Homo sapiens: one gene and its partner. The protein of the gene in region 1 interacts with the protein of each later gene in a pairwise test. Each region holds a gene or a part of one and is shown in the gene's direction. Other genes may lie near its edges.

Region 1 (3,242 bases):
TCAGGGACCTCTCTCCTCATCTCCAGCTAGCACAGTTTTATTCTTATGCTTAGGAAAGTTTCTTAGTGGGAAAACTGCCTGGGGGTTCCAGCTAAAGGGAATGAGGAAGAAAGGGATATATACAGGTTAGAGGTGATGAGGGAATTTTTTCCTCAGGTTTATGGAAAATTTACTTTTCGAATACCTAATCTGGTCCATTTCTATTGAAATTATAGGGTTGGAGTGCTATCCTTGAGGAATGAGAGAAGGACAAAGAACAACAGGCAAAGCAGTAGTTAGACTTTCCTGTACAAAGTCTACTTTAGGGTAACAAATTGTTGATAAGGGAAGGTTTTCTTTTTTAGGTAAATTCCAGCTAATACATGGAAAAGGAATGAGAAAATTAGAAAATCACGAGTTTGCTACTCCTCACGAAATAAAGGATCTTTTGAGGGAATGTTTTACATTTTATTACAAAAAATTTCAAAGTAGGCAGTTGGGAGGAGAATTAGCCATACTTTCGTCAGGAGAAAATCTTAGGTGATAATCTTGTGTTGGTTTTTTAGGTGGAAAAGGTTTATAAGAATGGGTGCCGTGTTATACTGTTTCCCAATGGAACTCGAAAGGAAGTGAGTGCAGATGGGAAGACCATCACTGTCACTTTCTTTAATGGTGACGTGAAGCAGGTCATGCCAGACCAAAGAGTGGTATGTTTCCAGAGGTGTTCTCCTCCATAGTTTAACCATCTCTGGAGAAAAGGCAGACTGACTGTGTGTCTTTACAGATCTACTACTATGCAGCTGCCCAGACCACTCACACGACATACCCGGAGGGACTGGAAGTCTTACATTTCTCAAGTGGACAAATAGGTACAAACTTGCTCCACCCTCTCATTAAATTCTTCCCTTCCTTCAAAAAATATTTACTGTAACAACTTTTTAAACAGAAAAACATTACCCAGATGGAAGAAAAGAAATCACGTTTCCTGACCAGACTGTTAAAAACTTATTTCCTGATGGACAAGAAGAAAGCATTTTCCCAGATGGTACAATTGTCAGAGTACAACGGTATGGCAACATTATGTTCACAGAAAAACCACTCAGTGTGACACCTGTTCATCTGTGCTCAGAAGGTGCCCCAGCCTTGCGTTTCTGATGATATGTGACACCCATATTAGGGGGTTCAGTTTGAATGAATGTCCCACAGGCATGTCAGTCAACTTGATGTGAATTATTTTTCACATTCTCCTTTTTTGTTCCATTCTTTCAAAACAGATTTTTAAGTCTGATCATGCCCCTTCCCAGGAATAACTAACTCTCTTCCCCACCTGATACAGAGCAAACAAACACTCAGATGGTTTTTAAATTAGTGAAAGAAGGGTCCCTTTTAATATAACAACCAAAAGGAAGAACACAAGTTGAAAAAAGTTACTAAGCATTTTGTGATGAAAATATGAATGATTAAAACAATGCTAATCTGATAATTGGAACTATCACCATGAAGCAGAAACACTGTAGAAAGTTACAATTGTATAGGGATAACCAAGGGATGTCTCCAGAAGTAGCTGCCAGACTCAAAAGGCTACTTTTCAGTAGTTTTTCTGTTGTTTATTTTCTATTATTTTTTTTTTAAGAAATCATATTTTTTTTAAATTTTACAGTGATGGCAACAAACTCATAGAGTTTAATAATGGCCAAAGAGAACTACATACTGCCCAGTTCAAGAGACGGGAATACCCAGATGGCACTGTTAAAACCGTATATGCAAACGGTCATCAAGAAACGAAGTACAGATCCGGTCGGATAAGAGTTAAGGACAAGGAGGGTAATGTGCTAATGGACACGGAGCTGTGACGATCCTCATGTGATCATGAAGTAACAGTAACTGACTTTTTATGTTAAAAAATGTACATTTACTGTGGATTCTGTTTAATTTATTGTGTATGTGTGGGGAAAAGATTAGATTCTAAAATAAAAGTTTACCCTGTGGCATCTTCATTTTTATATTCTTTGAAATGCAATGATAGCTCTCATTTATAATTCACTACCCTGTCTTTCAATAGACTAAGGAAAGCATTTTGACTGTTTAGAAATTGTGTACAGGTTTTTACAGTAAGTGGGTGTGTTTATTGGTTAGAAATGGCTATAAAAAAAAACCAAGAAGTACAGGAAGTACATCACCTAGATGTCCCACAGACACATCAGCCGTAGAGCACTGGACTTGTACAGAAGGTGTACTCAAGGAGTAAACACGTGTCTCTGTAGCCAAAATATTACTATGTTCAGTTAGTACCAAAATTAGACCATTTGATCTTCTACAGAGGATCATTAATTATTATAACAGAATGGGAAGTTACAACAGTGGATGAATATAAATAGGTCACACACAACAGGTAGTAATCATGGTGAAGAGAAAGCAGTTATAACAAGGCTGACTTTGTAATGTAATGTCTCAAAATGGGATACTTGAGAGTGGAGGGGGGCATGAACGATGACTAGCCAGTGTTAACCCATGGACCACAGCTACCCTGATGTTACCACAGTGAGATTACTGTAGCCTCATGGAAGCAAGATGTCCCTGAAGGATGGGCAAGTCACTTACTTACTTACTTGTAAATTTATATAATAAATAATTACAGATTGGTCTAGATAGACCTTACCTGTCACATATACTATGAATCAGGTTTTGTTAATGAAATCTATCAATTCCAGGTGACTTAACTGAATATGAAAAATAAAACTTTTTGAAGAATATAAGTACAGATGTATCTATATATAGATGTATCTATATATCTATCTATATAGATGTATCTATATCTATCTATATAGATGTATCTATATATCTATATAGATGTATCTATCTATATAGATGTATCTATCTATATAGATGTATCTATCTATATAGATGTATCTATATATCTATATAGATGTATCTATATATATAGATGTATCTATATATCTATATAGATGTATCTATATATCTATATAGATGTATCTATATATCTATATAGATGTATCTATATATCTATATAGATGTATCTATATATCTAGATGTATCTATATATCTAGATGTATCTATATATCTATATAGATGTATCTATATATCTATATAGATGTATCTATATATCTATATAGATGTATCTATATATCTATATAGATGTATCTATATATCTATATAGATGTATCTATATATCTATATAGATGTATCTATATAGATAGATATCTAGATATATAGAGACGGGGTTTCACCATGTTGGCCAGGCT
Region 2 (3,759 bases), on another chromosome or scaffold:
CTTTATATTTCCTTGATAGAATATTATTGGCCATTGAAAATGTTTACAAAGATCATATTGGAATATGAGAAAATGATTATAATATCTTATGGGTAAAATATAAACAATTAAAATAGTGTTCACTTATTTACAACTATGTAAAATATGTATTACATGTAAAATAATACATAAAATGATTATTGAGGCAGAGGCACTAATGGGATTATTAATTTTAAAATATTATATTTACATTTATAACCTCTGCAATATATGTAGAAAAATTAGAAAATATAGATAAACAAAAATAAGAATATTAAAATTACTTTTAATCCTATCAGTGAGTTTTCCAGACTTTGTGATTGCCAAATCTGGTGCATTTAAAAATAATTTTATAAACGAATGGGTAGACTGGTCTTTCAAATTAATGCATATACCATTTTAGAAACTTATACAAAAATAACCTATCAATATCTTCGTGTGTGGCATTTTTTGGTCAATCTTAGCACAACTACTTTAAAACTATTATTGATGTTAAATCAATGCCTTACAGTCATTTAAAAATTTTTCTGACATTTTGGCATTGTTTAACTAGAACTGACTGATTTGAAAGTTTTGTAACTCTTTGGCGTATTCGTGGACAACCTGAATCTTTGTGATGAAAGGGCTGAGAATCACCTAGCTGGCTTATATTAAAGTTATTACTAGGATTCCAATGATCTAGACACAAGTCTCACCTGAGACAGAGCTGAAAAACTTTTATAATATTTGTACCATTGACTGTTCAATTAGCCCAATTAGAAGGGAAATTCATGTGATGCTGAGCCTTCCGTAGATTTTCAGCTCTAGTGTGATTCTTTCCCTTCATAAGGTATAGATTTAAAGTAAACAAAAATTCCCAAGTGAACCATCAGGCGGACAAACTAATGAACAAACACGTGCTTGCCTGCCCTCAGGGTGTCCACCTCAGGTGTGGTGGTGGCTGTGGTGTTCAGAATTTATATAGAATTTGCCATTTGGAGAAAAATATTCTTCCCTGAATTGCTTCATTTAATGTGGGACAGGCAATCTTTTCTTTTTAGATACTGCTGGAGCCATATATACAAATGTTTGAAGAAGGATATCAGAGTAATTAGAAAGTAACTTGAGGTCCTAATTATATCTAACTAAGAACTTTAGCCTGATAATTGATGAATAAAATTAGGTAGTGGTTAGTATATCCCACATGCAATAGCGATATATTAAATATTATATGTACCTATTTATAAATGATGTTTCTTTATTTAAACCTTTTTACATGCTTTTTTTCTTTCACAGGGTAATAAGAGATTTGTTTTTGAGTTGTAATGGAGTAAGTCAAATAATCGAATTAAATTGCTTAAATGGTATTCGAAGTCATTCTCTAAAAGCATTTGAAACTCTGATAATCAGCCTAGGGGAGCAACAGAAAGATGCCTCAGTTCCAGATATTGATGGGATAGACATTGAACAGAAGGAGTTGTCCTCTGTACATGTGGGTACTTCTTTTCATCATCAGCAAGCTTATTCAGATTCTCCTCAGAGTCTCAGCAAATTTTATGCTGGCCTCAAAGAAGCTTATCCAAAGAGACGGAAGACTGTTAACCAAGATGTTCATATCAACACAATAAACCTATTCCTCTGTGTGGCTTTTTTATGCGTAAGTAAAGAAGCAGAGTCTGACAGGGAGTCGGCCAATGACTCAGAAGATACTTCTGGCTATGACAGCACAGCCAGCGAGCCTTTAAGTCATATGCTGCCATGTATATCTCTCGAGAGCCTTGTCTTGCCTTCTCCTGAACATATGCACCAAGCAGCAGACATTTGGTCTATGTGTCGTTGGATCTACATGTTGAGTTCAGTGTTCCAGAAACAGTTTTATAGGCTTGGTGGTTTCCGAGTATGCCATAAGTTAATATTTATGATAATACAGAAACTGTTCAGAAGTCACAAAGAGGAGCAAGGAAAAAAGGAGGGAGATACAAGTGTAAATGAAAACCAGGATTTAAACAGAATTTCTCAACCTAAGAGAACTATGAAGGAAGATTTATTATCTTTGGCTATAAAAAGTGACCCCATACCATCAGAACTAGGTAGTCTAAAAAAGAGTGCTGACAGTTTAGGTAAATTAGAGTTACAGCATATTTCTTCCATAAATGTGGAAGAAGTTTCAGCTACTGAAGCCGCTCCCGAGGAAGCAAAGCTATTTACAAGTCAAGAAAGTGAGACCTCACTTCAAAGTATACGACTTTTGGAAGCCCTTCTGGCCATTTGTCTTCATGGTGCCAGAACTAGTCAACAGAAGATGGAATTGGAGTTACCTAATCAGGTAATACCTTGTCCTTAGTCCAACTCTTATGTAATATATATACATATATATACACACACACATATATATATAAAAAATGTAATATGTATTACATAATATATGTAATATATATATTATTGTGTTATATATAACATATAATATATTACTTTTATATATGTGTATATATTATGTTTTATGTATATATACACATACACACACACACATTTTATAAGTGTCAGATGAATAATAATGGATATTGTGTTTCAAAGTTGAAAGATCTAAATTTTTGTGTGATACTGTTGGCTGCCCTGCCCAGAACTCCTTTACCAAACTGATCACCCATTCACCATCTGCGCATCAGCACCCATCTTCCAGGAATCACCCTTGACCGATGGAAGATGCCTGGGAAGGATGCTCATAGCTAATGCTGATAGATGTGGCTCTAAGAAGTGGGGACAATCATTGTGGGGCACTTCAGGCTCCAGAGCTTCCCAGGAAATGAGGCTGGGACGAGACTTCTCCTAAAACCACATCTTTGTCCAGATTCTTCTCCTAACCTCTTCTGCTTTACCTCACATTCTTACAAGTTTTCTCCTGAGATCATTTCTCAACTAAAAAGGAATCTAGGGACCTGGAATATGGCAGACCTCTTCTGTCCTCACTAACTTACACCTAACTGTTCAGTCAGCCAACAGGCTCTTCCTACTTCAGTTCCAGCCTCCATGTTGCCTTATCTCTAAAAAATCCTGATGCTTCCACACTGAATTTCCACAATTGAAATTCACAAGCTTTAACACAGCACACAAAACTCTTCAGTCTTGCTTTGACTTCTTCGCTTAGCTTCATTTCTTGCCATTCTTTACCATGCTGCAATGAAAACCAAATAAGATGAACTAAGTATTTTATCAATAAAAATGTTATTAATTTTAACAGGATGTTTGTATAGAGCTAGATATTTATATAGTCATTTTGCTTTCATATCAACTGCAAATAAATGGATTAGCTTTATACTTAAGTAAATATTTATTATTTATTTTTTCATCATTTAGTTTTTTAAAATGGTTATTAATATTCTTAGTCTCTTTTATTTTACCTTAGAACTTGTCTGTGGAAAGTATATTATTTGAAATGAGGGACCATCTTTCCCAGTCAAAGGTGATTGAAACACAACTAGCAAAGCCTTTATTTGATGCCCTGCTTCGAGTTGCCCTCGGGAATTATTCAGCAGATTTTGAACATAATGATGCTATGACTGAGAAGGTATGAATAACAACATATAGTTGTGTTCTTTGGGTATGACCAGCAGAGGCGGAAGTGTGGGATGACACTAGGACGCTGATGAATGTCATTAGAGCATATGGACTAGGACTTGGTCAGATGAGTTCAGTGGATCTTATCTCCTCGTGATGGATATGTGATGGGATGGACAGTATTTTGTCATTGCCCTGTCTTATACA

Evidence for each region.
Region 2: the proteins of CPAP (region 1) and LYST interact in a two-hybrid assay, tested with the Homo sapiens proteins (one study listed by BioGRID).

The regions. Positions count from the first base shown.
Region 1 is NC_000013.11:24,881,767-24,885,008, reverse strand, and holds the end of CPAP (centrosomal P4.1-associated protein), read left to right. Parts: intron 1-215; exon of another isoform or gene 216-306; intron 307-545; coding exon 546-686; intron 687-763; coding exon 764-848; intron 849-925; coding exon 926-1,046; intron 1,047-1,639; coding exon 1,640-1,832; 3' UTR 1,833-2,730; downstream 2,731-3,242. UniProt on the Homo sapiens protein: Plays an important role in cell division and centrosome function by participating in centriole duplication. Inhibits microtubule nucleation from the centrosome. Involved in the regulation of slow processive growth of centriolar microtubules.
Region 2 is NC_000001.11:235,804,307-235,808,065, reverse strand, and holds part of LYST (lysosomal-trafficking regulator), read left to right. Parts: intron 1-1,293; coding exon 1,294-2,323; intron 2,324-3,400; coding exon 3,401-3,562; intron 3,563-3,759. UniProt on the Homo sapiens protein: Adapter protein that regulates and/or fission of intracellular vesicles such as lysosomes. Might regulate trafficking of effectors involved in exocytosis.